7 separate regions of the Homo sapiens genome follow, and all the other regions are reported to be linked to region 3. The links are microRNA targets in miRTarBase. Many come from high-throughput screens and were not tested one by one. Region 3 holds a microRNA gene; each other region holds the end of a gene's coding sequence.
The links. The annotated mature microRNA hsa-miR-124-3p reads UAAGGCACGCGGUGAAUGCCAA and lies in region 3 at 2,555-2,576, opposite strand. An mRNA with a match to its seed (bases 2 to 7 or 8) in the 3' UTR can be bound and repressed. Matches are read on the target gene's strand: a 7mer-m8 pairs with bases 2 to 8, a 7mer-A1 pairs with bases 2 to 7 and ends in A, and an 8mer does both.

Region 1: miRTarBase lists NFKBIZ as a target of hsa-miR-124-3p. Seed matches in the 3' UTR shown: 7mer-A1 at 3,599-3,605 and 7mer-A1 at 2,624-2,630.
Region 2: miRTarBase lists CAPN11 as a target of hsa-miR-124-3p. The part of its 3' UTR that is shown has no 7-base or 8-base seed match.
Region 4: miRTarBase lists ACADVL as a target of hsa-miR-124-3p. Seed matches in the 3' UTR shown: 7mer-m8 at 348-354.
Region 5: miRTarBase lists CHSY3 as a target of hsa-miR-124-3p. The part of its 3' UTR that is shown has no 7-base or 8-base seed match.
Region 6: the mRNA of FLOT1 is a reported target of hsa-miR-124-3p. Seed matches in the 3' UTR shown: 7mer-m8 at 520-526.
Region 7: miRTarBase lists PRPH as a target of hsa-miR-124-3p. The part of its 3' UTR that is shown has no 7-base or 8-base seed match.

What each region holds. Positions count from the first base shown.
Region 1 is chr3:101,858,987-101,863,052 of GRCh38, reverse strand. It overlaps NFKBIZ (NFKB inhibitor zeta), which reads right to left. Exons shown (of 12, transcript NM_031419.4): 12 at 2,031-3,735. The coding sequence ends at 3,682. Among named protein-coding and RNA genes, the nearest start is that of NFKBIZ, 12 kb to the right of the region's middle.
Region 2 is chr6:44,183,332-44,187,397 of GRCh38, reverse strand. CAPN11 (calpain 11) reads right to left here. Exons shown (of 23, transcript NM_007058.4): 22 at 3,635-3,693; 23 at 2,997-3,492. The coding sequence ends at 3,466. It overlaps LOC105375072 (a long non-coding RNA gene), which reads right to left and starts at 1,415. Exons shown (of 3, transcript XR_926835.2): 1 at 1,340-1,415; 2 at 518-590.
Region 3 is chr8:64,377,720-64,381,785 of GRCh38, reverse strand. MIR124-2 (microRNA 124-2) reads right to left here and starts at 2,637; the gene lies at 2,529-2,637. MIR124-2HG (MIR124-2 host gene) reads right to left here. Exons shown (of 3, transcript NR_109792.1): 2 at 3,297-3,727; 3 at 1-183.
Region 4 is chr17:7,224,781-7,228,842 of GRCh38, forward strand. ACADVL (acyl-CoA dehydrogenase very long chain) reads left to right here. Exons shown (of 20, transcript NM_000018.4): 19 at 29-104; 20 at 177-486. The coding sequence ends at 317. DVL2 (dishevelled segment polarity protein 2) reads right to left here. Exons shown (of 15, transcript NM_004422.3): 10 at 3,197-3,264; 11 at 2,875-3,003; 12 at 2,624-2,755; 13 at 2,310-2,489; 14 at 1,641-1,859; 15 at 562-1,533. The coding sequence ends at 1,085. Among named protein-coding and RNA genes, the nearest start is that of MIR324, 3.4 kb to the left of the region's middle. RefSeq lists an enhancer at 176-675.
Region 5 is chr5:130,185,071-130,189,136 of GRCh38, forward strand. CHSY3 (chondroitin sulfate synthase 3) reads left to right here. Exons shown (of 3, transcript NM_175856.5): 3 at 1-1,564. The coding sequence ends at 721. Among named protein-coding and RNA genes, the nearest start is that of CHSY3-AS1, 280 kb to the left of the region's middle.
Region 6 is chr6:30,724,434-30,728,494 of GRCh38, reverse strand. FLOT1 (flotillin 1) reads left to right here. Exons shown (of 13, transcript NM_005803.4): 13 at 350-786. The coding sequence ends at 379. It overlaps TUBB (tubulin beta class I), which reads right to left. Exons shown (of 4, transcript NM_178014.4): 4 at 3,073-4,061. Among named protein-coding and RNA genes, the nearest start is that of TUBB, 6.1 kb to the right of the region's middle.
Region 7 is chr12:49,297,842-49,301,907 of GRCh38, reverse strand. PRPH (peripherin) reads right to left here. Exons shown (of 9, transcript NM_006262.4): 8 at 3,871-3,950; 9 at 3,222-3,620. The coding sequence ends at 3,555. All of the region lies in intron 4 of TROAP-AS1 (TROAP and PRPH antisense RNA 1), which reads left to right. Among named protein-coding and RNA genes, the nearest start is that of PRPH, 4.7 kb to the right of the region's middle.

The DNA.
Region 1 (4,066 bases), not on the chromosome of region 3:
ATTAATCCAGGGCACCAGCAGGTATAGCCAAAACCTAGTAGCATGGTTACAAGTAATCTCAAACCTTGTACCCAGGCCTGATCTCAGAGGAACCATCACAAACTTAGCCAGTGACTGAAGCTGATTTCTCTCTGAGGTCGTATTCAATACAGAACAACTGAGGTTATCAGAAAATGGAAGTTAGTGGTCGTATGTTTAAGTTGACATTTGTTAAAAGTCAGAGACATTTGAGGAAATTTTCCTGTCCTGATTAAGTAAAAATATAGAAAGGATATTAAATGTTACTGATTTGACTAACAAATTGAGCTGGAAGATTTGGTCTCTGACTCTTGTAGGGATTCCTTAGTCAATATCAAACTACAGCACTAACAGTCCTTTGCAAAGACAGACTGCCTGATTTTTTTCCTTAATGAGTCCAACTATGCCCATGCCCATTTTCATTAACATATCATCCATGTCACTGTGAAATCATGTGGCAGAATTAAATTCAGAACCATGATAGCCAATAATTCATTAGTAATTAATAGTATAACTCTGGCTCAAAACATCACCTCCCCCAACAAAACCAGTGACTCTAACCAGGATTGGCATATATTCGTTCATTCAACCAATATTTTATGAACTATTTCCATGTGCCAGGCACTGTGCTAGGCACTGAAGTTGCAGCAATGAGCACACAGTCTTGGCTTCTGTGAGGCTTTAAGATGTATTCAATCAAGAGCCATTTCCCATATTCCTGTGGCAGATATCACGCACCAATCACAGCAACCTCTCCTGAAGGTTCAATCCAGCAACCTTCTCCTGAAGCCCCTACGAGCCTGAGGATCTTTCTCAACTTGATACTCAAAAATATTACCAGTCAGAGGTGGAACACAAGATGAACCTTATTGGCCACTTCCAGAGTCTAACTAACTATATTAAAATCACCTGCTATTCCCACAGACGCCTATGCTTTGGTTCATGCTGTTTGTTTCTTTCATCTGCCTCTCCTCCCTTTATATGAACATCCAAATCAACTATTCAGAAGATACAGTTCAAATGCTCTACCTTGAATCCTCCCCAGTCAGAAAGAAATGTCCCTTCTGAATCTCTTTTTAAATGCTATTTAACATAGTTTACCTAATAAAGTACATGCCATGTCTCTCACGTAAACATCTTAAGGCTAAGAAATGTCTTATATGTCTTAGCCTCAAATTATTTACATCTTTGCACACACACACACGCACACACAAACATACTTGCTAGATACTGGTTCAACTATGAGAGAATTTGGGATTAAGAGAGAACATAGAAGCTCACTTGGGTAAAGCTCACTGTAGGGCTATGTTCAGTGGGAGTACATCATTTCTGCTGTTCTGGTTAACAAGTTGCATTTGCAAAGCAAATTACCCAAGATTTTGTTATACGAAAGAAGAAAAGTATGTGCAGAAATGAAACTAAAGTGGATTCTTGTGAGTCATGGTCTTCTAAAGGTTGTGAAGCCCCAAATATTGCACACAGCATTTGTGTGTATACATATATTTGCATTTTCCAGGGAAAGGATTCATAGCTTTCACCAGATTCTCAAAACAGCTGTAAGAACTAGAATATATGTGCAATAATTGTAACAACATACTGACAGATATTGATGTGTTTGTTCTCACACGTCAAAATGGCTTGCTGGCAAAGGGAAGAACCTTTCCCAGGTTTACATCTCTCTAAGGATGATCCTGGTAATCTCCAAACTGTTATTCCTATGATTCACTGCTCCCACTTAGCTTTTTTTTTTTTTTTTAAGCATCTAAACATGTGAATGATCGACAGCATCTATTAAACTTCCATGATAATTTCAAAACCTAACAGACTTCTCCTAGTAAACTTAGCAAATAGATTTTGATGTTAAATCTTGTATACTTTCAGGAAACATGTTCTCCAAAAAACCCAAATTAACATAAATTAACTAACTCAAAGGTATTTAAAATCATCAATAGTACTTTTTCTATCTAGGGAAATAAGGCACTAGGAAAAGAAAATGCATGTAAGACAAATAATATTAGTGAATTAGTTTATTTAAAACCATCAGTTTTTCCAATGTGAATGGACTGGTTCATATCACACCATATTTAGAGATACAAGGTGATTATAACTAACGTGTCTACAAGACATACTGGGTCAAACAATGTGATCAATCCAAAGGGTATCTTTTTAAAAAGAATTTAAGTACTCAGCTGCAAAGATAAGTTCACTAATGAGATTTTCTTTTTTTTTTTTTTTAAAAAAAAAAGGTTTTTAATGAGTCAAATTTATTACAAAAACTTAGTGTGTAATCAAAGCCAAATACATTCCTCAGGCATGCCAGCGGCAAGCAAAATAATGTTAATAGAATGTTATTAAAAAATAAAACTTTTTCTGAATGATATATATAAAACATCATGGCACATTATCATCATTTGACAACAGAAAACAGGAAGATATGTTTCAATACTGACTTTTTGTTGTTTCAATAAAGGTAAAAAAACAAAAATTTCAACAGAACACATAAATTAGAAATTCTAGAGGGTAAGCCATAAAGAGGTGTTCTCTTCCATGCAACTGCCAGCCGGGCATGGTGGCTCACTCCTGTAATCCCAGCATTTTGGGAGACTAAGGCAGGCAGATGGCATGAGCTCAGGAGTTCAAGACCAGCCTGGGCAAGGTGGCAAGATCCTGCCTGTACAAAAAATAAAAAATTAGCCAGGCGAGGAGTGCACACCTGTAGTTCCAGTTACTCAGAAGGCTCAGGTAGGAGGATCACTTGAGCCCAAGTCAAGGCTGAAGTGAGCCAAGATCATGCCACTGTACTCCAGCCTGGGCGCCAGAGCAAGACCCTGTCTCGGGAGAAAAAAAAAAAAAAGCATGCAATTCCCTACAAATAATGTATAATTTCAATGCATGAGAAAAAGCATCTTTACAATTCGAATATATCTTTCAGCCAGTAAAGGAACAACTCCGTAACTCCCCATCTGCTTTATCTACAAAGACTTAGTGATTACACAATAAAAACTCCTTAGTAAGAATTGTAAAATTTTTTTAAATAGCAACAATTCACTTGTTCTTTTCTATTTTATGGACTTATACATTTCAAATATGACCATGTTAACAACCAAGTATGTACAATATTTTTAAGGACAAAAATAACAATTATATACAGTTTGCAAAGATCAAATTCTAACCATGGACACCTTTCATCTAGTCCAATGACTGAAGCCTGTCCAACGCCAGTAACTCCCAGGGACTAAGGCCAAATGAAGCCTCAATGCTGTATTTACCTTTTTCCTTTCACATGCTTTTTCTTAAAGAAACATTTACAATTTACCTGCTTTGAAACTGTCAATAGCTATATTAATAATGTTTTGTGCCACAAATCAAAGTCCTTTCCTACTCAAAAGCTACTGTTAATTGAAGGCAATGTTACCATTGAGATCAAATTCAGATGTCTAGATCCCAGATACCTGGGTATGAAATATGCAAATCTGCCAAGAGAAATTAGATATTTTTCTTCTTTTCTTTTAATATAACCCACTATATAATAGTGAACTAAATATGTTTGTTTCATAGAAACAACTTACATTTGCCAATATAAGGCAAATGGTCTATGTACAGATACATCAGGACTGCCTAACTGACAGTGAGTGTTGCTAGCCAGGCTCCAAGCTAATGGAGCTAATACGGTGGAGCTCTCTGCTGAATGGACTTTCCCTTCAGGATACGTCGGATCTGGAAGAGAAACAAATAAAATTTGTGAGGTTTATTTCTTATGGCCAATGTGGTGTATTTCCTTCTGAGTTTCATTCCTTTCTTATACCATCTACACTACTCCTATTAACTTGTAAGTATACGAAGAAATACACACAATATTTCTCAAGATTTTGAGGTGACTTTTAAAAATACTAAACTCCTTTTAAACTTATTTCAGATCTCTTATAATAATCTTTGAGTTCAAGAAAGTAAAACATCTCCACTAAAAATTATCTGAAGTTGAAAATCTCCATAAACTTAACACCTATATTCTTTTCCTAATCTTTACTCTTGCTATTTGTGAGAACAT
Region 2 (4,066 bases), not on the chromosome of region 3:
TCCCCACACAGCTGGGACCACATGTGTGCGCCACCAGTCCTGGCTAACTTTTTCTTTTCTTTTTTTGAGATAGTCTCACTCTGTCACCCAGGCTGGAGTGCAGTGGCACAATCTCAGCTCACTGCAACCTCCGCCTCCCGGGTTCAAGCGATTCTTATGCCTCAGCCTCCCGAGTAGCTGTGACTACAGCCGTGTGCCACCACGCCTGGCTATTTTTTGTATTTTTAGTAGAGATGGGGTTTCACCATGTTGGCCAGGCTGGTCTTGAATTTCTGGCCTCAAGTGATCTGCCCACCTCAGCCTCACAAAGTGCTGGGGTTATAGGTGTGAGCCACTGTACCCAGCCTAAAAATCCACTTGTAACTGCTGCTAATCGGGATGTATATTCAGAATAATTTGAATCTATTCTCCAGGGTTACAATCCTTAAGTTTAGCCCAAATAAACTCTCTACTTATGTGAAGTTTGCTTCATTTTATGTTTACAGAGTGTTCGTGAGTAACCAGCTTTGTTACAAACCGGAAGGGATAGTCCTGATTTGAGAGTTTTCTGCTTCCTTTCCATCCTGGCTTGAAGTTGGCAGCATTTCACCCTAGGCCATGGAACAAGAGGTGGGGTCAGCATCTTCCTAGGGTTCCCAGAACCAATCCGGACTGCCCGGGACCTCTCAGAGTCTCAAAGGACCTGCTAGGTTTTTGTTTTTAAAAGATGGAGTCCCCGTGTTGCCCAGGCTGGTCTCAAACTCCTCAGCCTCCCGAGTAGCTGGGATTACAGGCATGTGCCACCATGCCCAGCATGGACCTGTTAGCTTGAGGCTCTCACTGACCTCTCCCTGCTCTCTCTGGGGACTTTTGCTCATCACTCAGAGAAGCTCTGTGGAGAGCAGGTGGTGGCTGCCATCTCTTAGAGAGAGAGGGAGGACGACAAGTGGGAGAACAGTCTTTCAAAGAGGCTCCAAAGAGAGTGTGACCTATTCTTTCAGGCAGGACTGGAGACGGAGAGGAAGCAGGGAGGGCTGACAGGACAGGAAACGATTCCTCTGAAGGCGGCGTGGGGTGGTGATAATGGAGGGAAGGCGGCTTTATATCCAGGCAGACTAGCTTTAGTCTTTGAAGTCACAAAGAAGGCAGGGGCCAGGGCTGGTGCAGACAATCAGTCACCAGATTAAGGAAGATCAGAATCCCACCTGCCTCACTAAGCACACAAGGGCTGGGTTTAGTGCACGTGGAAGGAAGCTAGCGACCCCAGGAAGCTGCACAGGTACACAGAGACAGGAAGGGTTTAGCTTCATTGGGGATGACAGATCTCTAATCTAGGGGAAGTTGGGGGTGCTGTCTCTACCTGAGAGGCTGAGAAGCGCATGTGCTTGGGCTCCAGTGTCCCTGCCAGAAACCAGAAGGGGAGGCTGTGGAGGGCTCTGGAAGGACAGGAGGAGAAGTACAGTTTAGGGGCTGCTGTGAGTGGCCTGGGTGTTCTCACTACTGCAGGGGGCTGGGGCTGGAGTTGGGGTGTGGGCACCTGGGACAGAGACCCCGAGGTCAAAAACAGGTGGACCCAGAAATAAGTGTTTCTTCCATGCCTCCTGCAAGGACAGTAGCTTGACAAGCAACAAATTTCTTTTTTTTTTTTAATTTTCTTTTTAATTCTCAGCAAGGCAAGTTACTTCTATATAGAAGCGTGCGCCCTTATAGATGGAACAATGGTGAGCACACATTTGGACAAGGGAGGGGAAGGGGTTCTTATCCCTGATGCACGTGGCCCCTGCTGCTGTGTCGTTCCCCTATTGGCTAGGGTTAGACCGCACAGGCTAAACTAATTCTGATTGACTAATTTAAAGAGACTGACAGGGTGAGTGCTTTGGTGGGAGTCAGGGCAGAGCAGGTAGCAGGTGATTGGAATAAATTAGGGTGGAGCAGGTGATCGGAATGAGTCAGGGTGGAATAGGTAATTGAAAAGGTTGCTTTACGAGGAAGTGAAGTTTAAAAATAGAAGGCAAAGAATTGAACATACTGACATATTAATTCTTTGAAAAGAAATTTAGAACTCATATCTAACAATCCCTCCCCTTGTATTTCCTTACAGCTTTCTTTTCATACTTTTTTTTTTTTTAACATGTCTTGACTTAGTTGCTTTGCTTGATTTTCTAAAAGAAGAAGCTTCTCTGGATAAGGTGGAGGATAGTTAAGGGAGGTTTTAGTAAGTGGACAGGCAACAAATTTCTAACAATAATAATAATGATTTGAATCTGAACACCTTTAAGGCAGGAACGAGTTCACCTATTGCCACAGTCCTCAGCCTTCCCAGTCCCACACGAGGAGGATTTGTTCATTTATTTATTTAAATTGTTTTTGAGACAGAGTCTTGCTCTGTCACCCAGGCTGGAGTGAAGTGGTATGATCTTGTCTCACTGCAACCTCCACCCCCCAGGTTCAAGCAGTTCTCCTGCCTCAGCCTCCCAAGTAGCTGGGATTATAGGCGCGTGCCACTACGGCCAGCTAAGTTTTGTATTTTTAGCAGAGACGGAGTTTTGCCATGTTGGCCAGGGTGGTCTCAAACTCCTGACCTCAGGTGATCCACCTGCGTTGGCCTCCCAGAGTGCTGGGATTACAGGCGTGAGCCACCGCGCCCGGCAGTTCGTTCATTTATGTGACCTGCTGGCTGCAGGTGTCAGATTTTTAACCTTCGAGGCTCCTGCAGTGCCACCTTTGGGGACCCCAGTTTGAAGCAGCAGATGAGAGTCCTGGAGCCCTGGCTCAGCCCCCGTAGAAGCGCTCCACCATAGGGCACACCACACAGTTCTTCACAGGGAGGGACTTGTGTGCTTAGCATCTGGCACTGCCCATAAACGCCAACTATGGCCTCTAGTTATTGTGACAACTGCACATTTCTATATGCTCCCTATCACCCTTGGCTGAGAGCTACCCAATCCTTTGGTCCTGGGTAAGTGACTTCCACCCTTGCCAGTCTTTTCTTGGCATAAAAACACAGAGACATGGAAGCCAATGGCATGTGCTATTTATTAGAATAGTATCCACAGATGGGGAGGAAAACAGAGGCTGTGCCAGGATGGGTGGTCAGCAGGTAGGTGTGAGCAGGACAGCAAGCATGGAGGGTAAGAAACGGGCTACAAGTCCCTTCCCTATTCTTGGCCTCCCCAGCCAGGGGGACCCTGGGGAAGCATCAACTACTCTTTAGTAAAATATACTCTGAGAGAGCGATGGTGGGGGAAAGCCAGCCATCAGAAGCCGGGTTGGGGAAAAAAGAGAAAGCCTCTGAGCTGGGGGAGTGGGCACGGAGGTCCCACTGCTGCAGTAAACACGGCACCTGGGACCCGGGCACTGCCACCTGGAGCCCATTTCATCAGCAGAGACCGGAGAGCTGAGGGCTACAAGAAGCACCCCACCCTCCTGGGCTAGAACCTCGCTGCTGCTGCTGCTGGTAGAGATGACCAGGCTCCTACAGCGCCTCTATCCCCACATGGTCATCTGCAGCCACTGTGGAGACAGGAAGCAGATCCCAGGGTGGGAAGAGACGGGGGCAGGATGCTGGCCCGGGGACATCAGAGCTGGGTGGGGGTGGGGTTGAGGGGCAGGCAGGTGCAATCCTGCAGATTCCTTCCCACCCTTCTCCAAGTACCTGTTCCAGGCTCAAGCAAATATGGCCAGTATTCTTGGGGTCCATGGTTAGAAAGAATGCTGCGTTACAGAGGAAGCGGGGGAGAGGGGCTGAATGCTAAGTCAGTGTTCCGAAAGAACCACTCCCAACTAGGTAGGAAGGGGCGACACCAGGTGTTCCTGGCTGTTCCCCACATAAATCCCCTAGCCAAGTGGGGAATTAATGATAGCAACTCACATAGCCTCACCAGGAGCCAGGCCCAGTTCTGATTGCCTTCCATAGACTAACTGGTTTAACCTGCACCTCAGTCCTTTGAGGGCAGTACTATTATTATCCACATTCTAAAGAGGAGGGAATGGAGGCACAGAAAGATTAAGTGACTTGCTCAAGTCACCTCTGCCAGCAAGTGGCGGAGCTGGGCTTTGAATCCATTTCATGTGTGCCTTGTAAGGG
Region 3 (4,066 bases):
TCTGAAGGACAAGTTTAGATGATCCTAAACAGGTAGGATTAGGCTGAGGGGATTAGGTTTGCTCCTCTGAGGTAGTATGAATTCTAAAGGAATCAGGCAGGACGATTTTGCAGCCCTGGACCATAGCTGCTTTGTGGATTACGCAAGATGTGGATGCAGGAGATCAGCGCAATTGGATGAATACTGGAAGGAAAAAGCAAGGCCGCCATGATAACGTGTAATGCTTTAAATTCATTTCTGCTTCCAACGACTGCTTTTAATTGGCACAAGAGGAATATTCCCAATCCTTAAATTTTGTAATTCGAGCAGCCCCTATTTTCCAGTGTGCTTTACCCACCCACTCCGAAATTGGATAAAATTAAATATAAACCAAAGTAATCGATGAATGTGAAAGACCCGACTTGCAGAGTTCTAAAATTCGAGGACAGATAAAATCCGCCCTGAGGCAGGGGGTGAGAAGGCAGCTCTCTGAGGATATTGCACCTGGCCGCTTTATTTCATGAATTTTATGATACATCTACATCCCGTGTAAAAAAAATAACTTAATGAACACATGTCTTTTAGGTCATTGTCAATGCATGGCCCATTGTTATACCTGGATCAAAATCGGTGTTGCTGTCTCTATTGTCCAACCTGAATTATTTTGTCTGTTACTAATTTTAACACCCTTTATGTTTGTGAATTTATAGACAAACTCAAGCAAATGCATAGAAATTTCTTTTGAGAAATAGCCAGCCAGGGTGGCTACGAATTGGTTGATTTTCCGTCTCTCTCTCTCTCTCTCTCCCTTGCCATTTTGATTCATTACTTAGGGAATTTAAATTTGTATTGTTTACATTTAATACTTTCAACATCTAAGAACGATGAAATATGCTAAGAAATTTAGATTTTTGAATATATCAATACTGACTCATCCAACCTTCGATTTCTAAGGCGAATTTTCACTGCATAAGATTTAGTAAACCGCCCTGCCTCTTTCCGTCGCGTGAGCTATGAGGATGTGGCTGAGGTCGGTTTTTCCGCAGTGCGGGTTTCAGGCCTCCTGGCCCTCCAGTGCCTCCCGCCGGCTGGGATGCGCCGAGCAGGCTCCTGCGCAGCAGAGCGGTCTGCAGAGCTCAGCCCTCTGTACCCGTCTACTAAGGCTGCCGGGCTGCAAGGCCTGGCCGAAGGTGGCAAGCTGCATGGGCTCCTGCCCTGTTTCACCTGGTGGGTCCCCGACCCACCCCTTCCTAGTTAAGCCTCGAGGCCCACACTTGAGTCCATTGCACGTCCCTTTGGTGACCAAGTAAGCACTAAAATCCGCGGCTGAGGACCTTATGTTTCTGTTTTAAGGAAGATGATTTAAGAAAGAAAAGGATAATAATAAAGCCTTCATTCTCCTCAATTTCCTTCTTGCAATCCTGCGATTTAGGTTTCAGCCTAAATAAAGTGGAAATGGTTTCCCCATACACTTACAATGTATGTATGTGTGCATTCCTACGTGAAGACCAAAAAGTGTCAGGCAAGGGTAGCAACCAGCTTGAGGGAACGATTTCAGTAAAATATTGTTTTGCTGTATGTGACCTTTTTCTCTTTTTAAATGTTATTTTTCAAATTACCTAATATCCTACTCTTCTTTTGAGTAGGGACGGGACGGTCCTATTGCTTTTCCAGTTTGATTACGGAGAGAGAAAAGGGCCACGGTCAGCACCGCGGACAGCGCCAGGCAGGGAGGGCGCGGCTACTTTGGTGCATCCTCTTAGCTCCTCTCCTTTGTTCCCAACCCCTGCAGGCCAAGGCAGAACAAAGACATCAAGGCTCGCTTTTTCGGCCTGGGTTTTTCTTTGGCTCCAAAGTCGTGGTGCGGAACTGCTACCTCAACATAGTCCACCTCACTGGCTTCCAAACAAATTAATTTACCGAGTCCTTCTAAAGTTTCTGACCTGGTCCTTTCACCTTATCCCACTCCTTTGACCGATTTGGACATTGCGACAATGCCAAAACAAGAGAGTTATCTTGGCGTCTTAAAGCCAGGCATGAACGCCTCGAGATTGGGAAGAAAAAGGGAGAAGTCAAGGGGAAATGCGGGCGGCAAGTGTTCTTCAGATCTTTCCAAAGTTTGGACGTTTCATTTGCTGTTTCTTGCGCAGTGTGGTCAGGACGCTATTTAATGTTACACCTCTCTCTGCTGTTTTGTTTTCCCAGCTTGGCCCAGGACTGCAGACAATCACACTACCTGTTCTTGAAAGAACTAGTGCTTTCTAAATGATTTAACTCTCTGGAATATTTGCACAGGCGGGAACTACTGCTCTCCAGACAGCTGTCAATGAAGCTTCCCTAAAATTCTCCTCGGAGATTTGCCTGCGGATTTCCGCGGCTGTAATGGAAAAGTAGGAGCCTTTCCCTTTCGAACACTAGGTTGCTTCCAGAATCAGTCCTGGGTGGGGGTGGGGGGCATTTATGCGGCAAGAGATGGGTTCCTTTTACTACCCCCTAAATTCCCTGCAATTGCTTTTTCCCCTTTCTGACCCTGAGATGCTTTGGTGTCCTTCAAGTGCAGCCGTAGGCTCCGCTCTTGGCATTCACCGCGTGCCTTAATTGTATGACATTAAATCAAGGTCCGCTGTGAACACGGAGAGCAGAGCCTCTAATCTTGATCCGGAAAGTATAAGACCCACTGCGATTACCACTCTTCTCTCCCTGCCCATCCCCCTCTCTCCGCTCTGAGTCTCTACCCCTAGAGTCATAACTCATAAGCCCAGCTCCTGTCTCTGCTCATCTCTGACACATCTGCCAGAGCCGCTGTTAATTAGTCTGTTCCGTGGAAGTGTAGACGGTGCGTGTGCCTGCGTATACATATGCATATATCTCCATGCCATTTACAGCACACGCCTAAAAACATACATAAGCCTATAAATCTAGTTTTCAAATGACGGCGTGGATCCAAGTTAATTACCCCTCTGGTACAGATCTAATTTTGTAATCGTGTTATTTTACTGAATGCAATTAACCCAGTTGGTTCGCCCTGAATCCTTTCTAAGGCACTTGTAAGGAATGGCAGGTTTTTAAGGACCACGCTATTGCATGTTCTCCGTCATAACCATTGCCAATCATTTTCTGCTGTCAGGGATGAAATCTAGCATATAAAAGAGAAAACCATGCGTGTGTGCCTGTAAGATAAACACACAGATATGCCTGGGCTCTGTGTCCTTTGATAACGTTACCGCGGGTTTGGTTGGGAGATTTTGGGAAAAGAGAGTCCAAGGGCGGGCTGGGTCATCTTTCTTTGTAATGCGGAAAAATTAACTCATCCGCACCTGCCTAGTCCCGAGAGAGCTGGGCGGCCCATCTGGTCTGGCTACAAGTTTGCTGCGGAGAGAAAAGCCTGCTCACTAAAGCTTCCCCACTGCCCAGGAGCGCGGACCTCGGGTCTGGGCCCGGAAGAGGGATTAGGCTCAGGGCAGCGCAGCCGACTCGCACTCCTCAGCCAGTGGCCACAGTCTGGGGCTGGAAGCGCCTGGGCCGGGCGGAGGGAGGGCAAGCAGGAGAGAGAAAAGGGTGAGGGAAGTTGACCTCTACGGGCGGAGCCCTCTGCGCAGCGGGCAGGAGGCAGCGGGCGCGACGGCTCTTTTCACGGCGTCCCCTACGGCGTGGTCGACCCGAGGGAAAGGCCCGCTCCCGCTCCAGAGTCCGAGGAAAGGAGAGAGAGCTGAGAGCTGGTCTTGCGCAGAGACCCCAGAATGCGCCCCTGAAAAACAGAATCAAAGCGCAGTGTTAGGGAGGCGGGAGAGAGGAGGGGGAGGGTGGGGAGAGGGACACGAGGCGGGAGGGAGCATGCGAGGGATACAAGGTGACAAGAGGACAGGACCCCAGTCGGCCGGTCGCGACCTCCGTCCCCAGGCTTCAGGGGGACGCGGAGGGGACCCTGAGCCCACGGAGCGCGGGGCCCGCAGCCCGGGGGGAGGGGGTGGCGCGATGACTGTAAGCGCAGGTCTGGGCTGCGGAAGTCCAGAGGAGGGTGCATGCGCTGCGGATACTGCCGCGTCCAGAGAAACGATTTCGGGAGCTGGAGCAGTGAAAACGAGTC
Region 4 (4,062 bases), not on the chromosome of region 3:
TTTATTTTCATCTCCTGCTTCCTGCCAGGGCCTCAAGATCCCTGAGTGAGGGCCACCCCACGGCCCAGCATGAGAAAATGCTCTGTGACACCTGGTGTATCGAGGTGAGACTCGGGGCTGCCAAGCTCAGGTGAGGGCTGGAGGTGCAGGCCCAACCCCTCCTTCCCTCTCCCCAGGCTGCAGCTCGGATCCGAGAGGGCATGGCCGCCCTGCAGTCTGACCCCTGGCAGCAAGAGCTCTACCGCAACTTCAAAAGCATCTCCAAGGCCTTGGTGGAGCGGGGTGGTGTGGTCACCAGCAACCCACTTGGCTTCTGAATACTCCCGGCCAGGGCCTGTCCCAGTTATGTGCCTTCCCTCAAGCCAAAGCCGAAGCCCCTTTCCTTAAGGCCCTGGTTTGTCCCGAAGGGGCCTAGTGTTCCCAGCACTGTGCCTGCTCTCAAGAGCACTTACTGCCTCGCAAATAATAAAAATTTCTAGCCAGTCATGCTTTGCTCCTGTGTGACGGTTCTTTCCCCCTGCTGCCTGCCTCCCTCCCAAAGAAAGGAGCCAGAGGCGTGGGGAGTTTGCCTCTATTGCTTTATTTGGTGTTTTATACAAGTGACTAAAATAAATAGAGTAACAAAGGCAGCTACATGGCCCAAATCTCCCAGCTTCCTCAGGCTGCTGTCTAGGATGCCTAACCCCGGGGTACCGCTGACCACCCCCAACCCTGCAAAGGGCAGGGCTGTGGGTAACTGGAGGAGGAGGTCACATTCTGGGGTTAGAAGGGGCCCAATGGATGGGAATTCTTCATATAAAAGAGGAAATGCCTATTAAAAAAGTCCCAAAAATGTAAGAAACTCTATTTTAACCCCCAAAAAGGCTTATAAAAAAACAAAGCTAAAAATAATCAAAGGTCCCTTGTCTACCCCTGAGGGAAGGGGGAGGAACCAGGCACTGCTGGTGAGAGTCACAGTGGCCACAATCTCCTGTATGGCAGCAGCTGGTAGGCTGAGCCCAGGCACTGTAAGAGCAAGCACATGACGGCCAGGACACCCAGTCACACACCAGGAGCGCCCGGCCCAGCCTGGCCCCACAGTGGGCTACATAACATCCACAAAGAACTCGCTGGGATTGCCCATGGCCATGTGGAAGCTTTGGCGGCTGGCTGTCAGTTCTGGGGGCACAGAGCCCAGGTCTCTGACTGGAGGGGCCCCCGGAGGCTGCACTGCTGGAGGGACTGGAGGTGGAGGTGGGGGCATCATGACCACCATCATGGGGTTGTAGGGGAGGGCCATGCCAGGGGGCGGTCCATAGGGATGGAGCCCTGGGTGGGCTCGGAGATTAGGGGCACCCCCAGTTGAGCCTCTGGATGGAGGAGGGCCCCCATCGCTAGTCCCACTTGCTTCCCCACCCCGCCGAAGGCTGCCCCCTCGGCTGGAGGGCTCAGACTCACTGCCACTGCCGGACTTGGACTCGGGGGCCCGCTCCTCGGGCCTCCCCGTGCGCCCTGCCCCCCCATCACTCCGTGTCGACCCACTGCTCCGGCTGCCTGTGGAGGGAGGGGAGGGGCAACTGAGTCCTCACCCAGGCTCCTCCCTGGCTCCCCTCTCATCCACCCTCAGATCCTGGCCGTACAGGTATGTGGGGATGACTTACCCTCACTATGCTGGCTGCTGGCACTGCCCCCACCATAGGTGTAAGATGAAAGCTCATGGTAGGGTGGAGGCTGCGGGCTGTAGGGGTGTGGGGCAGGGTATTGGTAGGAGAAAGTGGGCAGCAGGGGCCAGGGGGTGGCCCCAGGCAGAGGAGCCAGGGTATCCTGGTCTGAAGCCCCACTGGAGCCATCGTTGTCATTGAGAGACAGGTTGACTAGGTCTGGAAAGCAAGGGAAGAGAGGAAGAAATCACTGCTTCAAGAGGCTAGGGCCCCAAGACACCGAATGGAGAGGAACTGGGAACAGTTCTCCCAGACCCACCCACGATGGGGCTCAAAACAGGGGTTCACAAGGGTCTCTGACAAGAAACTCCCATCTACTTCTGCCATGAGGGCAGGGGCACAGCCACTAGCCCACGTCTTTGCGGGACTCAGGTAAGAGGTGCACCTTCCCCCGGTGGACACAGTCCTGCACCTGGCACATGGCTTGTCCAGCAGCACATGGGTGGACGTCAGCCCCCATCCTCGGCCAGTGCAGGACCTAGTGCGGGACACACACTGCTCGACCATCCATGGTGGCCCTGGCTGCGGTTTCTGGGCTAGGTCTAGGGTTGGAGAGGCAGAACAAGGTAGGCAAAGCCACACTCCCAGAGTTGGGGCAGGGGGACTTACAGCTCTCACAGCCACCACTGAGGTCTCCGAAGACGTAATAGCACTGCTCAGAGAAGGTGATCTTGTTGACGGTGTGTCGGATCAGGCCTGCTTTGAGCAGCCCGCTGGCATACTTGCGGGCCTCCCGCCGCTCAGGAAAGCCCTCCACGTGATGGTAGAGCCAGTCAACCACATCCGAGCCTGGGAGCACCCACAGTGGAAAAAGGCCTCAGGTTCTTCTTCCAACTCCTGCTCTCGCCTCTGCCTGTGCCATTCCTGGCTTTGGTCACCACCTCCTCCCCTTCTCCAGCCACCTGCCCAGGACCCAGCCATACCCAGAAAGGCATTAGGGATGGTGATCTTGAGCCACATGCGGTCCCGGACTTCCAGTCCAGACTCTGGAGCTGCCATGGCCTTGGTCACCGATGCCATGTCCGTATGGACGGAGAGACCCCGGCCTTCACAGCCTGGCAGAGGAGACAACGGGTAACCAGAGTCAGGGATCGCTCCCACAAGGGCAATGGATCAGACCACTGCGGGACAGCCTTCTGCTGGGAGGGTGGGATGAGGTGGGCTGGCGGCTCACCATCAGGCAAAGACGATCCAGATGTAATGGTGCTCATGGAGGAGGAACCTGGATAGGCTGGGAAGGTGCCAGTCAGAGCCGCGGAATGGGACACCCAGGCAGCAGGGTCAATTGGCTGGATGGGCTCATCTGGGACAAAGATGGCACCAAAATGACCCATTCTCAGTCCCCAAAAGCCAGCCCAGTCCCTCCCTGACTCAGCCTCCTGTTCCACCTCTGCCTGGACCCTCCTCCCACCCATTCCCCATGACCACAGGCCCGGCCCCAGCCTCCTGGGCAGCCCCCACCCCCAACTTCAGGCCCCTCCCTGAGTGTCACTCACTTCGGGGGAGAGTGAAATAGGCCTGAGGAGAGGGATCCCAGCACTTGGCCACAGTCAGCACAATGGGGCTATGGGGAAGAGAAGTCCAGTCAAGGGCGCAGGGGAAGAGGAGGCCTCAGGAGGGCGGGGGTCTGAAGCAAGGATGGATTAAGAGACACAAAGAGGGGGAGAAGCAAGCACATCGCGGCTGGGCTAGAGAAGGTGAGGGTGGAAGGCACCACAATGTGGATGACTCATCAACATGGAAAACTCTTAAAAACATACTGCCAAGTGAGACAAGAGAGTACACGCTGTACAGTTCCATTCACAGAAAGTCCAAAAACAGGTAAAACGAAACTGCAGTGTTCAAGGATACGTGCAAGGGTGGTAACTATCCAGTGAGGCAAAGCTTTTCTTTGTTATGGTGATGGCCAAAGAAGTCAGGAGAGTGACTACCCCTGGGGCAGTGAGGCATTTGGGAGCAGGAAGGGACATCTGAGGAGGAAGTTCTAGGGTATCAGCAATCTCCTATTTGATGATCTAGATGGCAGTGACATGGATATTTACTCTAGTATTATTTGCTATGTCATGCATTTGTTTCATGTACTTTGAACGTTATGTCTTAGCACTTTTTTTTTTTTTTGAGACGGAGTCTTGCTCTGTCGCCCAGGCTGGAGTGCAGTGGCGTGATCTCGTTTCACTGCAACCTCCACCCCCCAGGGTTCAAGTGATTCTCCTGTCTCAGCCACCTCACTAGCTGGGACTACAGGCATGTGCCACCATGCCCACTTAATTTTTCTATTTTTAGTAGAGACACGGTTTCACCACATTGGTCAGGCTGGTCTCGAACTCCTCACCTCAGGTGATCCACCCATCTGGGCCTCCCA
Region 5 (4,066 bases), not on the chromosome of region 3:
CATGTGTCTTATCCCAAAGCAGAATGTAAAGTTGGTCATTATCCTTTTCAGTAGGGATTCTGGCCAAGACTCCAGCAAGCATATTGAGCTGATAAAAGGGTACCAGAACAAGTACCCCAAAGCAGAAATGACCCTGATCCCAATGAAGGGAGAGTTTTCCAGAGGTCTTGGTCTTGAAATGGCTTCTGCCCAGTTTGACAATGACACTTTGCTGCTATTTTGTGATGTTGACTTGATCTTCAGAGAAGATTTTCTCCAACGATGTAGAGACAATACAATTCAGGGACAACAGGTGTACTATCCCATCATCTTTAGCCAGTATGACCCAAAGGTAACAAACGGGGGAAATCCTCCCACTGATGATTACTTCATATTCTCAAAAAAGACTGGATTTTGGAGAGACTATGGATATGGCATCACCTGTATTTACAAAAGTGATCTTCTAGGTGCAGGTGGATTTGATACCTCAATACAAGGCTGGGGACTAGAAGATGTAGATCTCTACAATAAAGTCATTCTATCTGGCTTAAGGCCATTCAGAAGCCAAGAAGTAGGAGTGGTGCATATTTTCCATCCAGTTCATTGTGATCCTAACTTGGACCCTAAGCAGTATAAGATGTGCTTAGGATCCAAGGCAAGTACTTTCGCCTCAACCATGCAACTGGCTGAACTCTGGCTTGAAAAACATTTAGGTGTCAGGTACAATCGAACTCTCTCCTGACAGTCCAGGCAACACATTTTGCCTTTTTTAAGGGGAGTTTACCTCATTGTTGGTTGTTGTTATTTTTATTGTATTATTGTTATTTTATTATTATTATTGTTATAATTTTATTTTGTTGTCCTGGTCTTAAACTACTCTTGGTTGTCTTCCTAAGGGTGTTTGTTGACCTCAAGCAAGAAGAGTCTGCAGTTCACTGATGTTTCAGATTTCTACTGAAGTCAATATGTTATTACTTTTATATAACTTTATTTGAGATTGAGTTAAATCATAGCAATCAAATGACTTTTGAAACGCATTCATCACAAGAGACAGCTTAGAAGAATGTTCTCTTGGGGCTTAAAGATGCAATATCGACTTTTATTTGGTTTCTCAAATTCAATGTGATACAAATATTTACTGGTGAAAGGTACCACAAAAGTGCTTTATGCTTCCTATGGGGAAGGGACTCTGTAACATAAACTTGAGTTTTGTAATTTATACAAGGACTTAAATATATAAACAATAATTTTCTTCATCTTTAGAATTTTTAAAGTAAATGAATACCTATGATTGTATGTTTATTTTTTAAAAAAAGTTTTAAAAATTGAGGAGTTTTGTTCCACAAGCAACCGGTACTGGCTACCCTGGTCTTATGACAATTATGAGCTCCTCACAACTGTCTGCTATAAATGCGAATGAACTTTATTTTCTCAAGGAAATATGATTTAATTAAATATTCATGTACATTTTAGAAGCTTTATGAAACAATGTCCTTCATTTGCTGGCAAGAAGATAAAATATGACAGAACCTGTTTATTTAAAATAAAACACAGGTATAGCAGTATTCTTTTTCAAAAACACTGACAAGGTTTTGTTGTTTCCTTTTATTCACACTTGATATGTTTCTGTTCATATTCACCAAAACATGCTTGCTGAGCAGCTTGAAAAGTTAACAAGGGATTATGGTATGCTGTTTGTTTTATTATACTGGAAAACCTAGCCTTCATAAGTGATTAAACTGAGCAATTTCTTTACTCAATAATTTACCATCTGGGAGAAACATCCTTCCTCAATCTCTTCAGCTTTGGGATCAAGCTGACCCAAGAACAGTTCAAAAATTGCCTTTAATATGGGTTGGTAGGTATCTCAAAAGTCACTGGAGAAATTATTAATATGACATCAATTTTATAATTATTAAAAATACGTCAGGAAATATCTCATTTAGTTTTACATATCATTCTTTCTTTGACCTGGATCAGTGGTGTCCAGTTTCTAGAAAAGCATAATTGGATTAAAGAAGTGTAAGAGAAAATGAACATCCATCCAATGGAGTGTCATTAAGGCATATTATAAAATCTTATTTTGTAAATAGGTAATACATTTGCATGGTTCCAAAATCAAACAAAATTTTTAAATGCCTAAAGCTGTTGGCCTCACTCCCCATCCACCCATATCTGTCACCTGACTACACATGACCATTGTTTGGGCTGTGTGAGTGTTTTGTGCATGTCTTTCTAGAGTTTCTGAAGCACACATTTTACTTTTTTAACCCTCTATACACAAAATGCAGCATATTATACATATTGTTGTGCACTTTGATGTTCTGTTTCTACTTAATGGAAAAATAATTTGCATCAAAATTGATTTGAAAGTGATTGTTGTAAATTGTTGCCATTATTTTTAACTGAATGCCATGAGGCCACATATCATTTGCCTTGGTGATGTATTCCTTACATGTTGACAGCCTCTTTTACTGAAGACATTTTGGGATCCTTAACAAATATCATTGCTTAATATTAGGACAAACAGGATGGCAGTATCCTTGACTATAACTTGTAATCCTAATACTGTCAAATTCATTAGAAAATAATTAATGGCATCTTTAGATGTTAAAATGCTCATCTTGACAGGGCAAACAATTCAAAATTGATCTCTGCTCTAATATTGTCTCTGGCTTTCACAAACCCTCACTCTAATAACTTACTTTCCCATATTACAAGACCTCGCTGTCTTGCAGGTTTTATTTTCCTGAACAGTAAATATATTAGCATTCAGCAAACATAGTCATTTGGGAAGATCTATTACCAAATAATAAGTATTAAGTATTTTGTTAATGAAGAAAGGAAATCAGGGACTGATCTTTAACTCAGACAAATGAAATACGAAGGAGCTTCACAGAGGTAATAAATGTAAAGGCCTAGTTTAAAACATTCCAAGACTTAGAGAGTTATGAAGCAGCTGCCAGGGGATGAAGTGGCATTCTGTATTACATGATGAAAACATGCTGATGAACCAAGGGAATGCAGAGATCTCATTTGAACTTAATCACACATGTATACACTATACTGCTAGTATATGTGCATTTTAAATCTATTATATAATTTTGCATTCAGCCTTCATATAATCTTCTTCAGGCAATGCAGTATTACCTGACTGAAAATATGGGGAGAATGATATAGTAAAATTGAGTGTTTTTCTATCCGTGTAGTATCAATTACCTAAAGCCTTTAAGTTTGAAGGGCAACACACTATGAATGCAACCAAAAAAGCACAATATATGCATGTGAAGTAGTCCATACATTGTAGTGTTACCTTATTTGGATGGCTGTAGATGTTCTGTTTCAATGTCACCCCAAGAATAATTTCATCAGCATTCAATGTCATATTACTGATCATCTGCTGTCCACTCAGCACCACACTATGCATTTTATTTTTAAGTGTAATCCTCAGAACAGCTCTCAGAATATCGGTATTACTTTCTTCATTAAACAGATATGGAAACTGAAGCCACCATGGTTAAGTAACTTGTCCCGGGTTCACACAGTTGGCATGCTGTAGAGGTAAGATTTAAGCAAAAGCCTGTCTGAATGAAGCACCTGTTTTTTCACTCTACCCCATGGTTTCTCAGTTGCTGGAGGGATGTAGAAAACAACGGAGGGGGGAAGGGCCTCCTGACATCATGCACATGTGAGATCCACTAGTCAGCTTGCTCCTGCTGAATACTCTTTCTGGACCGAGCTAAATTTGCAGATATTTGCTCAGTTAAAGCCTCTTCAGGATTTAATCTCAAGCGTCTACCATTTTGCTAGATCCTTCTGTGCACCACTGTGTCAGGGAAGGTTAGGGTTTTTCTGTCTACCTGCTCAAACATCACTGAACTTCAGCAAGGAAAAAAACTTTCCAGAATTTCTGATGCCAACAATATCCCTTCTACATCATCTCAGCCCCTGAGTGTAGAAACTGTTCACACTGATGAACATCACCAAATAATTGCTTGACTGTTTCTGTCACTTTACTCATACAGACTTGGTATAAGCAATGTTGTCAGTGCTGAAATAGTTCTGAATTTAAGAGTTGAGCCCATTA
Region 6 (4,061 bases), not on the chromosome of region 3:
CCGTCTCAAAAAAAAAAAGAAAAAAAAAAAGCGTATGTAAATAAAAGCACTGGATCATACCAATGACCTTCAAGCTGGGTTCCTTGGAGCCTCCTGGAGGCCTGCAGTAGAATATTCAGAGCTAAGGAGAGTGTGCAAACAAGGCTCTGCCCCCTCTCCTCTCTTCAGTGATTTATTGTATGTGGGTCCTGATGTCTTTGTTTGGGGAAACAGGTGGTAGGGCACCAGAAAGAACCCTGGCCGTGTGTGTTCTGCCTATAGCCCATTCGTCTAAACTGGGGCCCGGGAGAGTAGGGGCCTCAGCCTCCCGAATGTTCCCAAGTGTCATCTACTGTTGTCTTTTTGCCAGGTGAATCACAAGCCTTTGAGAACAGCCTGAGCCTTCAGCCCTCACAGATGCCCAGCCTCATAGCTGAAGTTGCCTGAATGATCCTCCTGTTGCATGTAACCCACTGGCCTCCCTGAGCATGTCCATTGACAGTGAGGTCCCACCCCTCATCTCTCCTTGCCAAATAGTTTGTGCCTTGTCTTGAAGGGGGTTGCTCCCCTTGCCAACCTCACACTGCTATGATTGCCAACTCCAGCGGTCCCATGTCAGCCTTCTGATGATCCCACTCCACCCCACCTCAACTTATTTAACTTCCTAATTAAATCAGACTGTTTGAGCCTGTTGTCTAGAATATTTTCCTGACCAAGACTGAGGGATGGGCTGGAGGTTTTCAACTTTGCTACCCAAATAAATTGCTGTAAGTAAGTACTAATAAAACAGAAGCAACTGGAAATTAATGCTTGGCCCGGCACAGTGGCTCATGCCTGTAATCCCAGCACTTTGGGAGGCCAAGGCAGGCAGATCATCTGAGGTCAGGAGTTCAAGACCAGCCTGGCCAACATGACGAAACCTTGTCTCTACCAAAAATACAAAAATTAGCCAGGCAGGGTGAAACATGCCAAGTAGTAGTCCCAGCTACTTGGGAGGCTGAGGCAGGAGAATTACTTGAACCTGGGAAGCAGAGGTTGCAGTGAGCCAAGATCGCACCACTGCACTCTAGCCTAGGTGACAGAGTGAGACTGTTTCAAAAAAAAAGAGAAAAAAAATGAATGCTAGACTCAGGTATGGTGACTCTTGCCTATAGTCCTAGCTACTTGGGAGGCTAAGGTGGGAGGATCACTTGAGCTCAGGAGTCTAAGGCTGTAGTGAGCCATGATCACACCACTGCATTCCAGCCTGGGTGACAAAGCAAGATCCTGGCTCTATTAGAAAGAAAATGAATGCTAGAATGTAGCTTCTTCCCTTGCATACAATAGGCTTTCTTGCATACAATAGGCTTTCTAGAATGGGAGAAAAGCAAGTTACTTATATACTGTCAAGAGTTTTAGAGTTAATTTTTCCCCCCAACAGTGTATTATAGTCAGAAAAGCATGCTAAAATAGAAGGAATGTTGGGAATAATACTAGTTCCTAGAATTCCTGAAAACATGGCAAAAGGAATTATTGTTTTCAGGGTAGCTTTGAGACTTGCATTGTGAACTTAAAAGTATGAGGTAGTAGATGGTACAGATTGTTTTAGAATGGGACCATAAGGTAGCAATCCCGCCTAGTTATCCTTTTTTTTTTTTAAAGACAAGGTCTTGGGCTTGGGCCGGGCACGGTGGCTCATGCTTGTAGTCCCAGAACTTTTTGGGAGGCTGAGACGGGTGGATCACTTGAGGTCAGGAGTTTGAGACCAGTCCTGGCCAACGTGGTGAAACCCCATCTCTACTAAAATACAAAAATTAGCCCGGCGTGATGGTGGGTGCCTGTAATCCCAGCTACTTGGGAAGCTGAGGCAGAATTCCTTGAACCCGGGAGGCAGAGGTTGTAGCGAGCCAAGATCGCGCCAATGTGCTCCAACCTGGGCAACATAGCAAGACTCCATCTCAAGAAAAAAGAAAAAAAAAGACAAGGTCTTGCTCTGTCACCCAGGCTGGGGTGCAGGGGTAGGGTCAGGGCTCATTGCAGCCTCTACCTCCCAGGCTCAGGCAATCCTCCCATCCAATCCCCACCCCCCTACCCCCAACAACCACCACCCCCCTCTACCCCAGCAGCTGGGACTACAGGCATGCACCACCATGCCCAGCTTTTTTTTTTGTTAGATGGTTCACTGCTGCCCAGGCTGGTGTGGAACTCCTGGGCTCAAGCCATCCTCCTGCCTCGGCCCCCCAGAGTGCTGGGATTACAAGTGGGAGCCACCATACCAGGGCTTCACTAGTTATCTTGGTGTCATAGGTTGACTAAGCCCACAGGATCACAGGAAATGGCCATGGGTACACATAACCCAAAGGAATCCTGGGCTGGGTGGCCAAGGCCAGTTCAACCATTTATGGTTCAGTACATCTGGGTGGGATGAAAAACTTGCATTTATTTCTGCAAGTTCCCAGAGGATGTGGATGCTGGTCTGGAAACCAGTTACACGTGATTTGTCATTCTTCTCAGCTTCCATTTTCCATCCCTGGATCCTGCATCTAAGCCTATGCCTTCCCCAGTTAAGACTCATTGGTGGGCCTGGTGCACTGGCTCACCTGGCTTATGCCTACAGTCCCAGCTGCTTGGGAGAATGAGATGGATTGTTTGAGCCCAGGACATCAAGGCTGTAGTGAGCTGTCAGAGACTACAGTAAAGACTGACTGGTGCTCAGAGCAGTTTGGGTACCAGAAACAATGATGTGAGGGTCTATAAAGCAGTCAGTGTCCTTACCAGTACCTCCCTGAGATACCAAATCGGCAGACACCCAAGTCCCTCATATAAAATGTAGTACTTGCATATAACCTGTGTACTTCAAATCATCTCTACGTTACTTGTAATACCTAATCTAATGCAAATATTATGTAAATAATTTATACTATTATTGTTTAGGGAATAATGAGAAGTCTATACATGTCCAGTACAACTCTTTTCCCAATATCCAGTTGGTTGAATCCGTAGGACAGGGACTCAATATTAAGTGTCAATTTAAGGAGAGCAGTGCAACTGAACTCAGGCCCCATGCCTCCATCAGCCAGCCGTGTTTCCCTAAATAAGCACACATCTCGCAGCTTTTTTCAATTCCCATTTATTTTTGGCTCTTGGGGCGATGTCATCTTTTCAATATGAAAAAAAGCAGCAAGTTCAACATAAAATAGAAATCTCAAATGTAGGATAGAACAAAACCAAGTGTGTGAGGGGGGAAGCAACAGCAAAAGGAAGAAATGAGATGTTGCAAAAAAGATGGAGGAGGGTTCCCCTCTCCTCTGGGGACTGACTCAAACACTGATGTGGCAGTATACACCACTCCAGAGTCAGGGGTGTTCATTCTTTTTTGGGAGTAAGAAAAGGTGGGGATTAAGAAGACGTTTCTGGAGGCTTAGGGACCAAGGCTGGTCTCTTTCCCCCCTCCCAACCCCCTTGATCCCTTTCTCTGATCAGGGGAAAGGAGCTGAGTGAGGGAGGTAGAGTTGGAAAGGGAAGGATTCCACTTGACAGAGTGGGACAGACTCCTCCAGAGTAGAGCTTGGAGGGAGATTGAAAGTGGAGATAATACTGCTGACACCTCCCTTGAAGCTGAGATGGGAAATGGACATACTTAGAAATTTAGTGACTTTAATAGCCTGGATTTCCCTCTCCAAAACTTTTAGAATGGAAAATCCCATCCCCTTCCTTATATAGTGACTTCTACCCACTACCTTCTACCATTTTCTACTTTGGGCTTAGGATGATGGCCATTATCTACATGTGTTTTCAGCACCTGGTTGGTTCTAAATGGGATCTGGAGACCCAGCTTCTTGGAGATTTTTAAGAGGAAGTATTAACTGGACAAATGGAATGGGCACCAGAAAGAAATACAGGGTCACCCAGAATGGCAGAAACCTAGGTTTCCCAGAGTGGAAAGAGAGAGGAGACATTCAACAAACAAGTATTTATTGAGCGCCTACTATGTGCCAGGCACTGTTCTAGACCCCCCCCAGAAGAAAAAACAAAAAACAAGATAGAGGCAGCAAACACAAATTCTGAGGGAGAGGAAAGGGGCAGTTGAGTAAGACGGCTAA
Region 7 (4,066 bases), not on the chromosome of region 3:
ATCCCAGACAGCACTCCTCAGGAGGTTGAAATTGTCTGCTTATGTTGCCTGTCTCCCCCACCCCAAACTGTAAATTCCTTGAGATCAGGGACTCTGACTTATTCATTGCACCTAGCACCATAGCTGAGTGAAGAAGATCATCTTAAATTCAGATGTGAATTTTGACTTGAAGGCAAGGGTAGGACGGAATGGAGGAATGGAGTTGGAAGTTGGAAGACAGCATGGGTGTTTCTTTTTTTTCTTTTTTTCTTTTTGTGGAGACAGGGTCTTACTTTATCACCCAGGCTGAAGTGCAGTGGCACTTTTCTTGGCTCACTGCAACCACGACCTGGGCTCCAGTGATCCTCCTACCTCAGCCTCCCAAGTAGCTGGGACCACAGGCTCATGCCACCATGCCCGGCTAATATTTTAATTTTTGTAGAAATGGGGTCTCTCTGTGTTGCTGAGGCTGGTCTCGAACTCCTGGCCTCAAACCATCCTCCCACCTTGGCCACCCAAAGTGCTGGGATTACAGGCATGAGTCTCCACACCTGGTCAGGAAATAGACATTTTCAAGCAGAGGCAGGGATGGTGATGGCATAATCTGATTTACTAAGGGTATTGAATAGATTTGGGCAGGTGGCAGAGCAGGCCAGGGGAAGGAAACCATTGATAATGTAGATAATGTGACCCACGCAAGATATGATGCTGGCCTGGACTAAGATGTTGGTAATGGGGATGGAGAGAACCAGACAGACTTGAAAGAGAGTTAAGAAGTAGACTTCATACCAGGCACAGTGGCTCATGCCTGTAATCCCAGCATTTTGGGAGGCTGAGGTGGGAGGATCACTTGCGCCCAGGAGTTTGAGACCAGCCTAAGCAACATAGGGAGGCCTTATCGCTACAAAAAATGGAAAAATTTGCTATGAGTGGTGGCAAGTTTCTGTGGTCCCAGCTACTCAAGAGGCTGAGGTGGGAGGATCACTTGAACCCAGGAGGTCAAGGTTGCAGTGAGCTATGATGGTGCCACTGCACTCCAGCCTGGGTGGCAGAGTGAGACCGTCTCAAAAAAAAAAAAAAAGCCTGACATGATGTCTTGTGCCTGTAATCCTAGCATTACTTTGGGCAGCTGAGGCAGGAGGATCATTTGAGCCCAGGAGTTCAATACCAGCCTGGGTGACATAGCAAGACCCCATCTCATGAAGCAAATTTAAAAATTATTTTTTGGGCTGGGCGAGGTGGCTCACTCCTGTATTCCCAGCATTTTGGGAGGCCGAGGTGAGCAGATCATGAGGTCAGGAGATGGAGACCATCCTGGCTAACACGGCGAAACCCCGTCTCTACTAAAAATACAAAAAAATTAGCTGGGTGTGGTGGCAGGCGCCTGTAGTCCCAGCTACTTGGGAGGCTGAGGCAGGAGAATGACATGAACCCAGGAGGCGGAGCTTGCAGTGAGCCGAGATTGCCCCACTGCACTCCAGCCTGGGTGACAGAGCAAGACTCCATCTCAAAAAAAAAAAAAAAAAAAATTATTTTTGGCCGGGTGCAGTGGCTCACGCCTGTAATCCCAGCACTTTGGGAGGCCGAGGTGGGTGAATCACCTGAGGTCAGGGGTTCGAGACCAGCCTGACCAACATGGTGAAACCCTGTCTCTACTAAAAAAACTTTACAAAATTAGCTGGGCATGGTGGTGCACACCTGTAATCTCAGGTATTTGGGAGGCTGAGGCAGGAGAATTGCTTGAACCCGGGAGATGGAGTTTGCAGTGAGTGGAGACTGAGCCACTGCACTCCAGCCTGGGCAACAAGAGCAAAACTCCATCTCAATAAATAAATAAATAAATAAATAAATAAATAAATGTGTGTGTGTATATATATATATATTTTTTTTTTGAGATGGAGTCTCGCTCTGTTGCCCAGGCTGGAGTGCAGTGGCACGGTCTCGGCTTGCTGCAACCTCTGCCTCCTGGGTTCAAGTGATTCTTCTGCCTCAGCCTCCCAAGTAGCTGAGACTACAGGCGCGTGCCACTACGCCTGGCTATTTTTTTTTTTTTTTTGAGACGGAGTCTCGCTCTGTTGCCCAGGCTGGAGTACAGTGGTATGATCTCAGCTCATTGCAAGCTCCGCCTCCTGGGTTCACACCATTCTTCTGCCTCAGCCTCCGGAGTAGCTGGGACTACAGGTGCCCGCCACCATGCCTGGCTAATTTTTTGTATTTTTTTTTAGTAGAAACGGGGTTTCACCATGTTAGCCAGGATGGTCTCGATCTCCTGACCTCGTGATCCGCCCGCCTTGGCCTCCCAAAGTGCTGGGATTACAGGCATGAGCCACCGTGCCTGGCCACCGGGCTTCTTCTTCTTCTTCTTCTTCTTCTTCTTCTTCTTCTTATTATTATTATTTGAGACAGAGTTTCGCTCTGTTGCCCAGGCTGGAGTGCAGTGGTGCGATCTCGGCTCACTACAACCTCCGCCTCCCAGGTTCAAGCGATTCTCCTGCCTCAGCCTCCCAAGTGGCTGGGATTACAGGCACCCGCCATCACACCCAGCTAATTTTTTTATTTTTAGTAGAGACAGGGTTTCACCATGTTGGCCAGGCTCTTCTTGAACTCCTGACCTCAAGTGATCCACCCGCCTTGGCCTCCCAAAGTGCTGGGATTACAGGTGTGAGCCACCACGCCCGGCCATTTTTTTGTAGTTTTAGTAGAGACAAGGTTTCACCATGTTAGCCAGGATGGTCTTGATCTCCTGACCTCATGATCCACCTGCCTCGGCCTCTCAAAGTGCTGGGATTACAGGCGTGAGCCACCGCGCCCAGCCTATTAAAATTTTTTAAATAACAAAAGAAGTAGACTTCACAGAATTTGGGGTCAGGTGAAGAAAAGAAGGGTGCATAAGCTGAGGTGAATTCTAACTTGGGCACTAGGTGTCTTAGTGGTGCCTTCTTCTGGGGCAAGGAATCCAGAGGAAGAGCATGATTGCAGAGGGAGGTGAGGAGCTCTGTTTGGGACAGGTTGAGTTTGAGTGGCCTGTGAGGCACCCAGCAGGTGGCTGGGCATTCCAGGCTGCAGGTGAGGGACAAAAGCTGAAAAGGAATGGACAGAGGTAGAAAACCTAGAAGGGTATATTGATGCCAAGAGAGTGACAGCCAGAAAAGAAATGACTCGAGACAAAGGGAGAACACCGCCGAGGCTCCTCCCCTCAGGTACCGCACACACACTTCCACAGAAACAAATGCACTGGAGAGTTTTCTCTTGACAGCATTTTATTTGGTTCAAATGTGAAACTCAGACCCTGGCTCACCCACTTCTCATCGTGGCTGGAGTAGATTTGTCCTGAGGGGGGATCATTGGCTTCTTATCGGGACATGAAAAGGGAAGCACATAGGTCACATCAAGTGTCAGGGCAGGGAGAGGCCCAGCGACTGCTGGCCGGGTAGGGCTTGGCCATAAGCCAGGAAAGGGATGCCTGGTACCACCTTTTAGACACATGCAGAGGGAGAGGAGACAATTCAGGAGTGGTCTTAGGGTTTGGGCTTTGAGCAGGCCTAGGGCAGAGTCAAGGCTCCGGACCAAGGGGTTCAGTAACTGTGGGCAGAAGACTTGTCCAGCTCACTGCGCTGCTCCTTCTGGGACTCTGTCACCACCTGCTGGGGACAGGGCATATGATGGGCACAAGCCATTCAGCGCCACCCTCCATCCTACTCCTTTGGATCATAGAGCCCCACTCCCTGGGGTAACCAGCAGAGGCTCCTGGTTATCTATCCACGTTCTCTGTCTCCTTCTCTGTCTCTCCCCAAGAATTACCCACCCTAAGTAAGATTAGCGACAGCCAGGCTGGGGCTCAGAAATAATATGGGAAATGGTGGGGTCCTGGCATTAGGGGACCTGCCTCACCTCCCCATTCCGGGTCTCAATGGTCTTGATCAGAACCGTCTTCCGGCTGTGGCTGTCCTGGGGAGGCTCCACCTCAGGCACTGAAGAAAGCAGGATAAAGGGTTCAAGGGGGAAGGCGTGGGAATCTCTCCTCTTAGGCTCCCACTGCTATCCCTGAGGGCAGGGGAGGGGCGGGTTTGAGGAGTAGGGGTGGGTA